Linked DNA regions of Homo sapiens. The protein of the gene in region 2 purifies or fractionates together with the protein of the main gene of each other region. This does not show direct contact. Each region holds a gene or a part of one and is shown on either strand. Other genes may lie near its edges.

What was found.
Region 1: the proteins of CTSK (region 2) and ARK2N purify together in Homo sapiens (affinity purification with mass spectrometry; 3 studies listed by BioGRID and IntAct, with this or other methods). This does not show direct contact.
Region 3: the proteins of CTSK (region 2) and ARID4B purify together in Homo sapiens (affinity purification with mass spectrometry; 3 studies listed by BioGRID and IntAct, with this or other methods). This does not show direct contact.

What each region holds. Positions count from the first base shown.
Region 1 is NC_000018.10:46,211,631-46,219,057, reverse strand, and holds part of ARK2N (protein ARK2N), read right to left. Parts: intron 3,248-7,427; 5' UTR 3,178-3,247; coding exon 2,463-3,177; intron 1-2,462. UniProt on the Homo sapiens protein: AMPK substrate important for exercise capacity and skeletal muscle function.
Region 2 is NC_000001.11:150,795,646-150,798,625, forward strand, and holds the end of CTSK (cathepsin K preproprotein), read right to left. Parts: intron 1,254-2,980; coding exon 1,154-1,253; 3' UTR 563-1,153; downstream 1-562. UniProt on the Homo sapiens protein: Thiol protease involved in osteoclastic bone resorption and may participate partially in the disorder of bone remodeling. Displays potent endoprotease activity against fibrinogen at acid pH. May play an important role in extracellular matrix degradation.
Region 3 is NC_000001.11:235,177,948-235,185,374, forward strand, and holds part of ARID4B (AT-rich interactive domain-containing protein 4B), read right to left. Parts: intron 4,847-7,427; coding exon 3,638-4,846; intron 3,238-3,637; coding exon of another isoform or gene 3,146-3,237; exon of another isoform or gene 3,124-3,145; intron 1-3,123. UniProt on the Homo sapiens protein: Acts as a transcriptional repressor. May function in the assembly and/or enzymatic activity of the Sin3A corepressor complex or in mediating interactions between the complex and other regulatory complexes.

The DNA.
Region 1 (7,427 bases), on a different chromosome or scaffold from region 2:
GGATATCCTAACAGGAATTATTTAGGATAATGCCTTCAACTTTTAAGCTGAGCCCAAACAAAAGCTTATAAAGAGCATTTTCTGAATTACTAAATTGGTTGTACCTTAATGAAAGAGTATGGCAATAATCGGTTTTTACTTTTCCACTTGGTTTCCATTCTGTGTAAACAGCTGAATTAACATTCCGACATCCAAGAGATTCTGTTAGGCCCATCCAGCTTAAGTTCACCTGAATGTCCATGTTGTTGAACTCAAGTCAGTTCATAATTTATCCTACCTTTACAATTTAGGCAACTTTTCGACAACTGCTCTTACTATAAGGTTGAACGTGCCTCCTCTCTTCCCCAAAGTCATAAGGTGACTCAGTAAACTGAAAGATACATCACTGTTACATTAAAAATTCACAATGTCACAATTTTTCAAGAGACAACAATATGGACAATTGAAATGAAATTCCTAATATTTGAACTCTAAGTTGTTCCATTTTTGCTGCTTTGCATAATTCCAGTAAAGATCATTCATACCTGTCTTATGGGAATGGCAGGTATACCATAAGACCTCCCAAAACTGCCAGCACACACACAGGCAGTCACATACAGTGACCCTGTACCTCAATCTACCATTTGATTCTCCAGGATTACCTTAGAAAACTATGTGTATTTTCAAAAGCCACAAAGTTACTAAATGGTGTGAACAATAGAAACCAAACTATAGATTCAAATTAATTTACTTTGGTGTTCAGTTAGTACACAATTCAGAAGAGACAAGAAACAGACACTGGTGTTTTAAGTTTTAAGCAGTGGTCAAGATACTCAATTAGAAAGAAGATTAGGAAAATATGAACAAAGCACATCTAACCTATTTAAGCAAAACAGGGAAAGTGCCTATGAAGACATTTCTCAAGCCACCTTACAATAGGGTTCTGACTTTAAATTTTGTTTACCCACCTTCTTCCTTTCCACAAAAAGGCAAAGTATTGGGGTAGTTACATAAAATCCTGCTTAGTAAGTGGAAGTAAGTATTGTATTAAGAGTTCCATCAAGGTCTTGATTAAGAGGTTAGAAGAGGATATAGGAATGCACAATTTTACAGGTATTAATAAGGTTTTTTTAAAAATATTAATACATGTAAAACTAAAATATATACCTAAAACCTGCCTTAGAACAACCCCAAAGTCTGTTTCTCTCATACATTTAACTGATGAGCTTCATTGAAATCCCCCTCCCGGTAGTTTTATTACAAGGAACAATAGCAAAGGAATCCAATAGAGATATTAAAACAGTAAAAAGCATTTCTAAAGATCGTTTGAGACTCATATTTATATTATATGGACAAGACTTATTATCAGAACTTGAACACCTATAAAGTGCTTTAAAACCAATCATTCTTGTTACTGAATTTATATAAGTTTGGGAAGCTATAGATTCCATTAACCAATATGATTTCTCTTGAAATGTTCTTTGTATATCAGCAATATGCTGTCTTCACATGTAGAAACAGAAAGCTTTCAGAAAACAGGGAGAGAAAAAACATAGTCACCCATAAAACTTTAGAAAACCCAAACTTGCCCCTCTTCAATGTGGCAATAAACAATACTGCCATGACCTATTCAATGCCATACAGTTTACAAAATGTTCCTGATCATATTGTAAGGATCTCTTGGATAATAAGAATTCACTACTTAAGAACCATTCAGATACATCTTTCTTCCACTATGAAATCTCAAGACTGCCTTTGTATTATAGTACACAGTACCAGATGCAATAAGAATGGGGAAAGCAGATTTACCAAATATGTAATAAGTTACAGACCCTTATACCAATGAGAGCTAGAACAAGCGGATTTCTAACAAACTTTTTTAAAACTTGGGGAACTAATGGGAAATTTTTCAGAAAGACATTCTTTTCAACGTGAGGATAGAAAGATTTGTAACAAGGATAACTAGCTTCTCATGCATTGAATATGGGGGAAACACATAAAACTACTGTTTTTGGAGGAAAAATTATTAGAAAACTTTAACAAAAGATAGAATGTGTTATTTCAGACACTATAAGCTCAAGTGCAGTGGCTATATAATAAAGCAAGGTGCCTATTCCTGAGGAGAATGTACTCAGTAATGATGCCGAACAGTGAGTATTAAATCTAAGCAGTGCCAAAAAGGCAATGATTGGGAGTTCAGGTAATGTGTTACAGACAGACTTATGAGAAATTCCATTACTTAAAAATAATCTTGTCCCTATCATTAACCCTTTAATTTTGTTTTTCCTGATGTGCTAAAGTTCACTGGAAACCTCAGAACAGGTTTTATAAATTGGCCATGTCTTGTTAATAGACTGCAGTCTTCAAATTTACACAGAGCTGCAGGTCTCCTGGATTTTTTCAAGTGTCACTCATCTAACTGAACCTGATAGCTGAGAAATGCCATCAGGTACTTTACAGTCAGTTTAAAAAACATCCTCTACCTGGTATCTCTGCAGTGATTGTCTTGCTGCTCCCTGAAACCTCTTCATCATCATCTGATGAGCTCGTGCTTGAGTCACAAGTCAGGTCACTATCACTGGTACTACTGTCCTGCAGCAGGTTATATTTCTTCCTTGCAGCAGCCTCCCGTTTCTGCCTCAGTAGCCTGATCCTCTCCTTGTGCTTTTGGCTCCGATGACCTTTAACCTTGGCGACTCGGCCATTCTGTTTATCACTGGATTGCCGGTTTTTCTTGGCAGCCATAGTGGAAGTTTCACTTTCAGATCGGGACCGCCTAGACTTGCGCCCAACTGTGGCACCAGACACTCCTGAAGGGTCTCCTTCTACCGCCGTTTCTGCCTGAGAGGGTTCATTCTCTTCTGCGGAAGACAACGTATCTGAATCAGCCAGGTGACCACTAGAGGAAGGGGAAAGCATGCAGTGATTAGAGGAGTCACTCTCATAAACTCGGCCAGTTGTAGGCTTGTCACTCTCTGTGGATGCTAACTGAGACTCAGAAGAGTCCCTTCTCAGTTCCATCAACAAGCAGGGCATTGAAGAAATAACTGTAGAATCCGCTACACCATCTTTCTGAACTTGAGATTCCAGTTCTACAGATCCATCTTCCTCCTTGGCTGTCTCTTGTTCAGATGCTTTTGGTGGGGCTTCGGACTCAATGAGTTCTTCAACTTTTCCCACTGCCTCCTCCATCTTCATTTCAGAATTTCAAGTTAAATCATGGAGTAGAGTCTAGGAAATGATATCAAAGATGCAACAGGAAAGCAACCTGTACAAAAACACACAAAGTCAATAAACAGAATGCCAGATTATTTAGTCAACACAACATGCCTACCTTTCTAAGTGGGTGGGGCAAAACTTACTATTACACAGGCCTTTAAAATATATATATATTATTATCTGCTTGTTTGATCAACAGTCAAATTCAAAGGACTTAATACGGTCAAAATCTAAGCATACTGAGCTACTAAAAATGCCATAATATTAATCCTCTAACTTGAAAGGCCAACATGTAATGAACATTTTCAAGTTTACAATTTTATTTAAAGTGTTCTACAAAGAAATCTTCAAAACTCTGATATAATTAATATGCATTCATTGACTTTGATATAAATGAAAAAGAATGCTTTAAAACTAGTCTAGAAATGCATTACCTGGAATGACTACTTTTACATTCAAATCCAAAAAGAAAGGAGGTGGGAGGAGGGGAGTTACAATAGAGAAACATCAAATGTTTTTGTTTGTTTGTTTGTTTGTTTTTGAGACAGGGTCTTACTCTGCCACCCAGGCTGGAGTGCAATGGTGCAATCTCAGTTCACTGCAACCTCCGTTGCCCTGGCTCAAGCAATTCTCTTGCCTCAGCCTTCCAAATGGCTGGGACTACAGGCGCACACCACCACACCCGGCTAATTTTTGTATTTTTTGTAGAGACAGGATTTCACCATGTTGCCCAGGCTGGTCTCGAACTCCTGAGCTCAAGTGATCCACCCACTGTGGCCTCCCAAACTGCTGGGATTACAGGAGTAAGCCACCGTGCCTGGCCCCTACATTTATGTTTAAAAAAACAAAAACACAAACACACTCCAACTACATGCATTTGGCAAATGAGCAACCAAATACTATGCATCCAACTTGTCTGCAGTCCCCTCAATAGGAGTTGCTCTAGTGAAGCATTAAGATGAAAAGCCAGAATTTGATGCTTCCTCAATCCTACCTAGCTCCCACATACCTCATCATGCTGAATTTGAGTCTAGTGTTTAAATAGATGTTTTATCCACAATGGTCACTAAATACAGAACCCAGAAAGCCTAGTATATTCTATGAATGAATAAAGGGATTTAAGAGAAAATACTCTACACCCATTGTACACTTTGTATGCTAAATTTAGAACCTAACACTCTACCACCACTGTGAGTGATACAACTCCAATTAACCATACAGGTACAGGACATAATATTTAACCTCAAAAGCTTATGACCTATATACAGTTAAGTCCTTACTTAACATTGTCAACAGGTTCTTGGAAACTGAGACTTTAAGTGAAATGACATTTAACAAAACCAATTTTTCTCATTAACCTTATAACTAAAGGACATCATTCAAAGACCAGCAGTATCTTGTTCCATTTAAAGTCGCAGTTTCCAAGAACCTATTGAAAATCTGGTGGTTTTTAAAGAGGATGCTAAATATGGAAAACAAGTAAATACCTTGCCCTGTATGTGTTACATTACAGAAAGCAACTATCATGTCCATAGGTCACAGACACACATAACCATTATTCTATACGGTATGCTAGGTGCAATATGGCATCTCCATCATCTCACTCCATCAAGTTACCTAGATAGTTCAATCTATAGCAGACAAAAACTAGGAAATATTTGCAAAATCCTTTAAAACAGATCTAACATGCCAAGCCCACTTTTTGCTTAATACAAACATAAATATTCTATATGCCTGTTGTTTTTCATAGCCCTGTTCTCAGCTGTTGATAAAACAGGCATTCTGATTAAGTTTCCTTAACACATTCATGGAAACCAGAACATTCATGGCCACTGAAACATCTGTTAATTTAAAACAATCCTAGGCCAGGAGTGGTGGCTCACACCTGTTATCCCAGCACTTTAGGAGGTGGAGGCAAGTGGATCACCTGAGGTTGGAAGTTCGAGACCAGTCTGGCCAACATGGTGAAACCCCGTCTCTACTAAAAATACAAAAATTGGCCAGGCATGGTGGCGAGCGCCTGTAGTCCCAGCTACTCGGGAGGCTGAGGCAAAAGAACTGCTTGAACCTGGGAGGCGGAGGTTGCAGTGAGCCAAGATCACGCCACTGCGTTCCAGCCTGGGTGACAGAGCAAGACTCCATCTCAAAAAAATAAATAAAATAAATAAAAAATAAATAAAACAATCTTGTGTGTAGCCTACTTCACAAGCATATTTGTATCAATTATAATACTAATGTTGGAGGCTAAGTGAAAATCAGCATAAATATTTTTTCTGACACCATTACAAAAAAATGTAACACCTCTGAAAGCCAACAGAGGGAGTAACAGTTAAACCAACGGAGACCGTTATAAATAAAGCATGCTGTCAATACAAACACGAAATAAAATATTCACAGATACAAAATACCCCCAGGTATGAGGAATAAACCCAAGTTCTTTTTTTTAAGCCAGTCAAATTTAGCAGTGGGGGGGACAAAGATTTTCTAACTGAATAAAAATGAGAGTTAATTCTATTATGGAGATTCAAATTGTATATTCTGGAATAATGATTCTTCTTAAGGCTGGGCACGGTGGCTCACGTTTGTATTCCCAGCACTTTGGGAGGCCGAGGCAGGTGGATCACGAGATCAGGAGTTCAAGACCAGCCTGGCCGAGATGGTCAAAGCCCATCTCTACTAAAAATACAAAAATTAGCCAGGCGTGGTGGCAGGCACCTGTAATCTCAGCTACTTAGGAGGCTGAAGCAGGAGAATCACTTGAACCCGGGAGGTGGAGCTTGCAGTGAGCCGAGGTCCCGCCACTGCACTCCAGCCTGGGCGACAGAGTGAGACTTAGTCTCCAAAAAAAAAAAAAAAAAAAAAAAAAAAATTCTTCTTAAAGCTAAAATATCTGAGAAAATATACTCAGATGGAATTAATGTCAGCTATATAGGACAAGCATCAAAAGTCTCAATTTGTGAAAGAAGGCAGCACTGGATATTTTCAAAGTACATAATACAGCATCAGACTAAAAAGTAAATTTGTTAAAATGACCATACAACGCTTGTTTCTTCAAGAAATAAGTTGTGTGGATAAAACAGGTAAATCTAGATTGTTTTTCCCTGTTAAAAAAAAATGACAATATGGCACATCATTCAATTTAATGATTATCTTTCAAGTTCCTTAAATTTGAGTGTTAACTGAGATTTAATTTATACTACCTAAATTAGTAACCGGTATTGCAGTCAAAACCACTTAAATATGCTCAAATCAATCACAAAAGACTAGTATTGACCACAAACAGGACAAAAGTTAGCTCATCATGGTATGTTCATACAATGTGGCCATTAAAAAAATGAGAAAGCACTTTATATAGAGAGGTAAGAAACAGTTCTCACGCAATTTTAATGAAAAAAGATACATTATAGCATTTATGTAAATAAATAACAAAACTATATTTACATGAGTTTATCTGTAGATGCATAGACTCTGGAAAGATACTTAAGAAAATAGTAATACCAGTTGAGAAGGAAAGCAGGTGAATAAGGGAACAGGAGAAGACAGTGTGGTATGCAGTTTTGTATCTCTTGAATTTGTGATGTATACAAACATTATCTATTCAAAAATCCACTCTGACATAAAAGTCTTCTGAAGAAAAAGAAGTTGTGCTTTTCTGGGGCCATAACACTAGACTACTCTTTGGGTCAAGCTTAGTCAATAAATTCTACTATGCTTTCTTCCTATAGTGGAATTTTGCTATAATTAATTAAATACAGGAGAAAAAAGTCACAGAAAGTGAAAATATAAGCTCTGACTAAACTCCCTTCAGTGGAATAAAAACGAAGTGCCCTAACCACAGGGGGAAATGATGTCATACATAAAGATTAATCTTTCCATACAACCAGATTATTTACTGCATATATTGTTTTTGGTCAAGGGGAAAAAAATAGGTTTTTCTGGTAGGAACAGTCAAGTAGCTAGCAGTATAAAATGATATAATTGTCAAATAGGAATTGCATCACATAAATGGCATAAAAGGCTATCAACCCTCTGGGTTAATGTTGACAGTAAATTTATATTCAGTGAAGTAATAAATACACAACATTTTTCCTATTAGAACAGCACTTTCCCCCATGCTGTTCTTCCCTCCAATCTAAACGCAACCTCCTCTACATGAGTACTAGAGCTCATCTCCCTCTCATTTCCCTAATATCTTACATTATTGATTATTCCTTGGCTCTCGTCCACCT
Region 2 (2,980 bases):
TAGGGAGACAAGCTGGTCTCAAACTGCTGGGCTCAGGCGATCCTCTCACCTCGGCCTCCCACAAAATAATTTTTAAAAAATCAGCTAAGCATGGTGGTGTTCACCGTAGTCCAAGCTACTTAGGAGACTGAGGTGGGAAGAACTCTTGAGCCCAGGAGATCAAGGCTGCAGTGAGCTATGAGTGCCACTGACTCCAGCCTGGGCAACAGAGGGAGACCCTGACGAAAGAGAGAGAAAGACAGAGCGAGAGAGAGAGAAAAGAAAAAATAACCTTAAAATGTTTTTCAAGACCCAAGTTTCCATGTCACTTAATTTAGTCTCCCCTCAGGCAGATTAAACACTGAGATCTCCTTATATCCACTTAATCCCAGAAATGTAGTACAGTTCTTGGCACAGAGTAAGAACTCAATATATATTGGCTGAAGGAATGAACAAATAAATGAATTGGGATGAAATGTTTATGTGACAGTCTCTACAACCAGACTGTGAGCGCATCAAGTACATAGAAGATGTTCTATTCATCTTTTTTCCTCCAGCACCTAACACAGTATCCAACACAAAATGAATGTGTACTAGATGCTATTTATTAAACTGTAGACAGGAGATAAATACTTTATTTCAAAAGTGCAAAGAAGGGAAGACAAATCACATTTCTTTTTATCATGTAAACTTGTACCAAAGACTTATGAATAGATTTATGAATTGGAGTAGAAAACATAGACATTTCTACCTTGAGGATATAGAAGGGAACTTAGGAAGTGAGAAGTCAGATTACCCTAGTCCTCTAGGGTGCTTAAAGCTAACTAGTCCCGTGAATGAGAATCTAACCTATGTGAAAATCTCCAGCCTGTACCTGTACAGCATCAGCCCTGGGACAACACAGTCAGGGGCAGGCTGTAGTCACATCTCTTAGCCTAAGAGTACACAGCTGTCAGGGAAAGTCCTGATGGCCACAGTGAAAAAGGTCATGGGTGGAGAGAAGCAAAGTAGGAAGGATCATTTGAAGCACAAACAAATGGGGAAACTGAACAGACAATCTCAGTATCACCACATCTGCTTCAAAAATAGCACACCAACTCCCTTCCAAAGTGCATCGTTACACTGCACCATCGTGGAAGAAATGGAAGAGCAGGATGGATTTGGCTGGCTGGAGTCACATCTTGGGGAAGCTGGCCAGGTTGGCAATGCCACAGGCGTTGTTCTTATTTCGAGCCATGAGGATATATCCTTTGTTTCCCCAGTTTTCTCCCCAGCTGTAAGACCAATCAAGAAAAATACTTAGTACTCTCAGTTTATTTATTCATTAAAATATTTACTGAGTATTGTGCGAGGTACTGATGGTACACAAAAATGAATATGATGTTTTTTAACTTTAAAGAGTTTAAAGTCAAGAAATAGGGAGAAGGCATAATACTGTAGGTATCAAAGGAGGGAAAGATTCCTTCTGATCAAGAGAATCTTAGAGGCTTGATGTAAGAGGTGGCATTTGAGCTGAGCCAAAAGGCTAAGTAGAATTTCGACCTGTGGGAAGGGGATGCCAGTGGAAGGGTGTGAAATGAACAACAGAGGCAGGAAAGTGTGGGGCACTGTTAGGATCATGTAGCTGAAAAGCAGTGTGCCTAACAGGGTGTAGTGGGAGAGATGTCTGGAAAGGCAGATTGAGATCAGGTTGAATTACCTTTACTGCAAGGTTAAAAAGCTTCACCTTTACTCTGTGACCCATCATCGTGAGGAGCCAGTGAGGGATTTTGAGTGGGAGAGTGATATGATCAGAGCTGTATTTGGGGAATATTAATCTTGAAAATGTGAGTTTAGAGCATAAGAAAGAGGCTGAAGCTGGTGATCTTGATTTGGGAGTAAACCCCATAGGAGAGATGGATGAAACTATGAGAGTGGATGAGATTACTAAGGAAATGAGTAGCGAGACTAGAAGACAAGAGAGACGACGTGAGAAAGAGGAGAGAGGAGAGATTGTCTGTTTATCTTCCTGAATTGTTTTCAGTCCTCTTTCCCCAACCAGCAACTTCTCTAATTACCCAACACATTTTATTTAAAACCTGTACCCTCCCCCACTCTCCCCTTCTCCAGGGGCCCCCAGTGTTCCTGATCCTGCCCGGGTGTGTCCTTTCTTCCTCCCAGCTCTCTTGGAAGCTATCTCCACACATGGTACCTGATCATGAAAGAACAGGGTAAGTGCTTGGACCTGGGAGTCAAGAGAAGGGACAACACAGGACAGAAGCTGTGGGAGACTTGGGAAGATGCTCAGGTTCACCTTGAGTTGGAACTGTGATATAAAAAGTTGCTTCAGGTTTGAACAACACCACTGCGTGAGTCTGTCAGCGACCCAGAGTCTAGGGCTCCTGCTCCTTGGAGGGCACTAAGGACAGGAGATTTAGCCAGTGCTGCTGCCAGGTTAATGGTGATCAGCCAGGAAAGGAAAACTATAATTGTTATCAATCTGCCCCTCCCCAAAAGTCACAAGGTGCTAAAGAGAAATGGGAAGCAAGGTACCCTGGAGTTTTCTTTGTTCCCCAACATAGGAAAGTAAACACTAACTTTTTTTGTTTATATCTTATTTCTAAAAAATGTTTCTCTTCACAATCTTTGGCAAGTTCTTATATACGTGTATCTTAAGTGTATTTTGAAGGAAAAAAACTGTTCAAAGGAATATTAAACCTTTACGCTGTTCCCCTACTGTTAAAGACAGATTGCTAATGGAAACCATCTAAGAAACTGATCACATTAGAGACAAAAGAAAGTAAAAATACGTAATTCCAAAGCTCCTGCTGGTTCTTTGTACTGCTTTATCTCATGGTTAGTTAGGTCTGTCTTATTGGGCTCTGAGCTCACTGAAGGTGTCATCTGCTCGTTGGTTTATGTATGTCACTAAGCACCTTGCACACAGGGAGCATCTGCCCAGCACATAATTGAGCACTATTGTCTGGCGGATATGGTTTGGATGTGTGTCCCCTCCCAGTCT
Region 3 (7,427 bases), about 84 Mb from region 2:
AAATCCAACATTCCCTAAGTATAAATTAATTCCACATTTTAGAAACATAGAACAATCCAAAACTACATGTTCTTTATGACATTTATAAGTTGTCACAGAACTTACTACAATTTTTAAATAAACTGTCATTAATGGAAGCTCAATTCTTATACATAATAAAAGTCAGGGTTTTTAAAAAGGCAAACAAAGTATGCACATCCTTCTTTAAAAAAATCAGATATAAACTGAAAATAGTCCTTAATATAGTACTGGGAGTTTATAAGCCTAGTAATTAAAAGTATATGCTGAAAATAAAAACTGAAATTTGTTAAGATTCAATAAAACCAAAATATTAAGACTTAATCACAGGTTAAAATGTTAATGACATTATGTCTTATAATCATATTAATATAATTTTTAAATGATATAAATGAGGTAAATTTTAGCAGTAATTCATACTTGGTTCTTTTTTACCAATTTATGTCAAGAATAACTAAGCTCCCAGGGCACTGTTTGGTTAACATGCATACCATTTACAAATCCAACATAGTAGTTCTAAAAAACGTCTCATCTTCTTGGTGGGAAATTATTGCAAAACATTACAAATAAATGTCTCCCTTTTCTTCAAGGACTAGCCCAAGTCCTACATCTTCACTAAGATGTTCCAGGCTTCACTGATCAATCACTACTCTGAACTGTAGCATTTTTCTATACTACTCATTTGGTCCTTAACATCTGCTATATTTCTGTCTAATTCATATATGTTATCTCTCAGACTATATAAAGTAAGATTTTTTCTCCAGAGACTAATAAAGTACTATCTCCATTCAGTTCCAATGTCAGACACCAAATCAACCTTCTGTGTATAAAACCTAACTTCCTTGATCAAAAACAGGACAAGTAATTAACTGTCTGCAACTTCCTAGCTTTTTTTTAATGGGTCATATAATCTTACTTACAACTTTTCCTAATACCTTTTTAAATTTTTAATATTTCTTTTTTATTTTTTACACCAAGTATGTGACCCACCTAATGTCATTTTAATATCACAATTTAAGTGAAACATAAAGGAGACGTAGATATTGACCATACTGAAGCACAGAACCATAATTGTCAGGTTTCTCTCCAAGAGAGTTTAATTCTAAAGTGTTCAGATACTAAGAAATAAAAACCTTCAATGTAGAGTAAATTAAGAGGAAAAAACTACATCTAAATAGTAAAACTTAAATTTTAACTTGTGATATAGTGGGGAGTCTCCAATATTCATAGTAAGTAAATTTATTAAAATGTGGCCATGTGAAACAGGTGCTTAAGAACCTATTTCTGGCTGGGCGCGGTGGCTCATGCCTGTAATTCCAGCACTTTGGGAGGCCAAGGTAGGTGGATTACCTGAGGTCAGGAGTTCGTAGACCAGCCTGGCCAACATGGCGAAACCCCATCTCTACTAAACAAAATACAAAAATTAGCCGGGCGTTAATCCCAGATACTCAGCAGGCTGAGGCAGGAGAATCTCTTGAACCTGAGAGGTGGAGGTTGCAGTGAACCAAGATTGCACCACTGCACTCCAGCCTGGGCAACAAGAGCAAAACTCTATGTCTCAAAAAAAAAAAAAAAAAAAAAAAAAAAACCCAACAAAAAGAAAAACACCAATTATTTCTAAAGAGATATAAATTACCCTAAATTTAGGAGTAGCTTTCAAATTCCACAATTATTAACCTAGTCAAGATTAAGATTCAAAAGGGCAGTGTTGACTTAGTCTATTAGCAGAGAAGATATCCTCTTTTTTTTTGTTGTTAATTTTAATCTTTTGTAAGATATTACGAACATAATAAGGATACAACCTCTTAAAAACTACAACAATAGGCTAGGCACGGTGGCTCATGCCTGTAATCCTAGCACTTTGGGAGGCCAAGGCAGGCAGATCATGAGGTCAAGAGATAGAGACCATCCTGGCTAACATGGCGAAATGCCATCTCTACTAAAAATACAAAAAATTAGCTGGGCATGGTGGCACACGCCTGTAGTCCCAGCTACTCAGCAGGCTGAGGCAGGGGAATCACTTGAACCCAGGAGACGGAGGTTGCAGTGAGCCCAGATCACACCACTGCACTCCAGCCTGGGCAACAGAGCGAGACTCCATCTCAAAAAAAAAACCCCCAAGAAAACCTATAACAATAAAACCTGTTTTTTTCTTTCTTTTCTTGTTTTTTCTTTTTTTTTTTTTTTTTTTTTTGAGACAGGGTCTTGTTTTATCACCCAGGCTGGAGTGCAGTGGCGTGATCTTGGCTCACTGCAGCCTTTCCGGGATCAAGTGATTCTCCCTCATCAGCCCCCAAGGTAGCTGGGACTACAGGCATGCGCCACCACAGCTGGCTGACGTTTGTATTTTTGGTAGAGATGGGGTTTTGCCATGTTGTCCAGGCTGGTCTTGAACTCCTGGACTCAAGCGATCCACCGCCTTGACCTCCCAGACCTCCCAAATTGCTGGGATTACAGGTGTGAGTGACCACACCTGGCCAGTAAAATCTTACTGTTGAAAGCCTAATATTCTGAAATAAAGGATTCTTTCATTTTGAAGATTAGTCATGCCTGGATAGTTCAGTTGCATGAGATAGTATGGCACAGATAAAATCATAGTAGTTATACTTGTAAATGTGAAAAAAAGCAAAGAACATTTCAATTTAATTGCAAGTATTTTTTTAATTTATTTTAAAACAGAAATGTTTTAAGTCAAGATTCCTGAGAAAACATAGAATTAACTAATTTGATCTAGACCATATCTCTTTAAGCTTTGCTGAAAACCTAAAGCTAGCATTCTAAAATCTTTTACGGTATATAAAAAACATACTCCAGTGCTCTGTCTTTACGATGGAAAAGTGTGTTCCAAAGCCAGGTGTCAGCCTAGAGTATACTGATTTAAAGATACCTGAATGAAGTGGTTTATAAGAAAAATGATGACAGAAGTATGGCTATGGCACCATCGAAAGGCACTAATACTTTGGGAAGGTACCGATTTGAATTTCCACTTTTAACAATTTCACGGAAAATCAAAAAAGTATTACTGTAGGTTATTAACGTACACATTGGTCCTTCAATTTGGAAGCTATGCATCTAAGAAAGCATCAAATTCCTTTACAAACTCACACAAGTTAGTCAGGCTTGAAAATCAGTTTGACACGGTTGTCTGAGGAAAGCAGTGCCTGGACAGTTGGTTGCTCCAAACCCCTACATACAGTATTTGGTTAAGGGTGGAGGGGTCTGTCAATAAATCAAAATGTTCGTGAGAAACTGCACATTACAATTGCAAAAACAATGTTACAGAAATAGATTTAAGCTGCTCATGCCATATAGTCAACCACTGCATATAATGAATTCTCAAACAGGTTTGGATTTGGGCCTGGGTGCAATTTCTAGCATGTGTTCTGGTCCACAATAAAATGCCATGGATGGCTCAAGCAAAGCACATTAAAGCCTTCTCAAGCTTTTAAATGCATTCCACTATTCATTTTCAAATTACCTTTAAAATTTCCATTTTTACCATGTTCACACAAATATGACACTTAATCGCCTCAGGTTATAACAAGAGATACTGTGAAATCATTGAAACTTTAAGAGGGGAAACCCTAAAATAAGTCAACATACACATTTTCCTTCTCACCTTTTTCAGGATGTTCTGGTTCTGGCTGATTACTACTGCTTGAGCTCACACTGGCATCAAAACCTGCTGGCGAGCTATTCCCTTCAGACTGGAGGTCTTGGAGCTCCCCAGCAACACTATCCACCTCAATTGTGCTATCAGTTTCACTCTTGATACTTCGAACCTCTTCTTGGTTTGGAGCCAGTGGTTCTGATACTGTTACAGAAGACTGCTGCCGGCTGCCTTCTGTTACAGTGACTGATGAAGGCGATTCAGGTGTAGTAGGAGGGGTATTTAGCACTGAATTACTGCCACTACTTGGAAATTCTGCTTTTCTGTCATTGACCTCTACTGTTTTTTCTTCAATGGGTTTACTATCGACATTGACTGGAGGTGGTTTTTCTAGTTCTACACTGGGTGAACAACTCTCCTCTTCAGCCACAGTCTGCAGTGACTCCTCTGCCACCCCCTCCTCTGGGGCAGGATGCGGTGGGGAAGCTGCAGCCTCAGTATCAGAGTCTGAAAAAAGCTCTTTCAGCGTTTTTTTAGGCCACTGTCCCTGAATACTTGACCAGACATCTTTTCGATCTTTGGCCCTGCTGTTTTGAAGTCTTTCATCAGAGTTATTTAAAAGTTTAATCCTTTTTTCTGCCACTTCTGAAAATCCTGAATAGAAACCAGTTGTCCGTAGAGATTTTCTTTTTTCCTCCAAACCATTGTATTTCTTAGTTGGTGTCATCTTTGCTTTTGTTTCTTCTTCATCTTCATCTGAAGAGCTGTTGCTACTGTTTTCCATGCAAAGTGATTCTTTGTTCTTGGCCTTCTCTTCCTTTTTGCCAGGTGATCCAGTTTTTAGACACTCTTCTGTATTGCAATACCTTCTTTTACCACGTTTTATTTGTGGTTTTGAAGATTTATCTGTTGTGTCCTTCTTGACATCCTTTCTCTTTTTTGTGACTTCATCTTCTTCATAATCAGTATCTTCGGATAATACTTCTATATCTTTCCTTAATCTTTCTGGAGATTTTGACACTGGTTTGGATATTACCAAATCTGCATGAACTTTGTTTTCTTCTAGCAAAGATGAACTGTTCTGTTCCTCCTTTGAAATAAGATCATTTCTGTTGTTGGTCAAATGATCAATCTTAGATTCCTCTTTGCCATTATTATCCATGTCTTGAGCACCTCTCTCATCTTCCTGCTCACTGTCTTCAGCAGAACTTTCAGAAGCTAGAAAATAACAGAAAAAAAAATGATGAGTATGATAAGAACACTAGCAATGTCTTCTATGTGCCAGGGACTGTATATATTAGGTCCTGTGTATACAGCCACCCGAGGTTGCTGGCTTTTATCTCTATGTAACATGCAAAGAAACTGGGTTTCAAAGAGGCTAAGAGGCTCTTCCAATGATGGAAATGTTCTATTACGATCACGGTGATGGTTGTAACACTGTATACTTTTGTCAAAACCCATCACATTTTAAACATAAAAGTCATCACTTTTATGTAAACTGTACCTTAATAAAGCTGAAATAAAAAAGAAAAAAGCTTCTCCAAGTTTATATAAGTATAATATTTTTATCATAATATATCTGAGAAAATAGTGGAGTCAGGATATAATCCCAGATTGTGCTACCTCCAAGTTAATATTCTTCTTTTTTTTTTTTTGAGTCTCACTTTGTCATCCAAGCTAAAAGTGTAAGTGGCGTGATGTCGGCTCACAGCAAGCTCTGCCTCCTGGGTTCACGCCATTCTCCTGCCTCAGCCTCCTGAGCAGCTGGGACTACAGGCGCCCACCACCACGCCCGGCTAATTTTTTGTATTTTTAGTAGACACGGGGTTTCACTGTGTTAGCCAGGATGGTCTTGATCTCCTGACCTCGTGACCCGCCCTCCTCGGCCTCCCAAAGTGCTGGGATTACAGGCGTGAGCCACCACGCCTGGCCCCAAGTTTATACTCTTATGAAACTATAGCCTTCATTTTTCTTTTCATCAGAGACGGTCTCACTCTCTCATCCAAGCTGGAGTGCAGTGGCACAATCACAGTGCACTTCAGCCTCAAACTCCTAGGCTCAAGAGATCCTCCCACCTCAGATTCCTGAGTAGCTGGGATCACAGGAGCAAGCTACTGCACCTGGCCTCTCATTTTTCTTTCCTTTGTTTTGTTTTGTTTTATTTTCTTTCCCTCCCTGCCTCCCTTCCTTTCTCTTTCCTTTCTCTTTCTTTATTTCTCTCTCTCTCTCTATTTTTTTCTGAGACAGGGTCTTACTCTGTTCCCCAGGCACTATCATGGCTCACTGCAGCCTCAACCTCCTGGGCTCAAATGATCCTCCCACCTCAGCCACCCAAGTAGCTGGGACTACAGGTGTGCCACATCCAGTGAATTTTTGTATTTTTTGTAGAGACAGGGTCTCGTCATGTTGCCAAGGCTGGTCTTGAACTCCTGAGCTCTAGCAACCTGCCTACCTCAGCCTTCCAAAGTGCTGAGATTAAAGGCATGAGCCACCACACCTGGCCAGCTTCATTTTTCAATGTAATAATGAATATCCAATAATTTTGTAATCAATGATTTCCATGATGTTTTAAAGAATAGATATAATTAATTTTAGTTACTGATAACTTATGTAAAATTAATTATGGAACTTACTGCTTCAGTGTGTTCATTCTGGTAAATCATTTTATTGTTATTTTAAGATAACATTTCCTGAGAACTTACTACATGCTGGTTACTTTTGATACACTTTGAACAGACCATCTCATTCAATCCTCAGAACAATGCTACGAGATACATGTTATCAGCCCCACTTTATAGTTCAAGAGACTAGGGTCTTAAATAAATAAGAAAAACAAACAAACAAAAAGCAACACAACAAAACAAAGCAAAAAAAAAGGGACTGGGGTTTAGAGGTTAATCTACCCCCCAAGGTAGTTAAATCTAAGTCATTTAACTCCAGAACTTACAACCTTAACTATAGCTCTCTACTGAGAAATCCATGCATGTTCTTTAGCTAAATTCATTAAATGTAAAACATAACTGACATAACTAAGATTGTGAAACCATTTCACCTTTACAATGTGTGTCTGCATGGCCACATTTTTTAAATTATCAAAACAATACATATACATCATTAAAAACAAATCTAGACTCATAATGAAAAACCAAAAAGAGGATAAAAATCTGTTTTTCCACCTCCAAAGTGTTAACATCTGATAGTTATAGTCATCTCTTACTATTCATAATATACTATTTGTTTTATTTATTTTTTTGTGTGTGTGACGGAATCTCACTCTGTCACCCAGGCTGGAGTACAGTGGTGTGATCTCAGTTCACTGCAACCTCCTCTTCCTGGATTCAAGCAATTCTCCTGCCTCGGCCTCCCAAGCAGCTGGGACTACAGGCACATGCCACCATGCCCAGCTAATTTTTGTATTTTTAGTAGAGATGAAGTTTCATCATTTTAGACAGGCTGATCTCGAACTCTTGACCCCAAGTGATCTGCTCATCTCAGCCTCCCAAAGCACTGGGATTATAGGCATGAGCCAACGTCCCTGGCCTGCTGACTTATTTATAAAGTTTATCCTCTATGAGCAATGGGGATTCTTACTTATCAACACCCATATCTCCCCTCTACCATCCTTTCTATATATAGTTATCTTTCATTTTTACAATATAGTATTTATAACATATGTAAATGTGGTTCCCTGCAGAAATAAGTAGTACATTTGATAAACTTCCTTTCTTATACAGCATTTTATTTTTCCAAGAGTTTCCAACTACTTTTCTGCATGTTACATCTTCCTTTGTATCTCTTT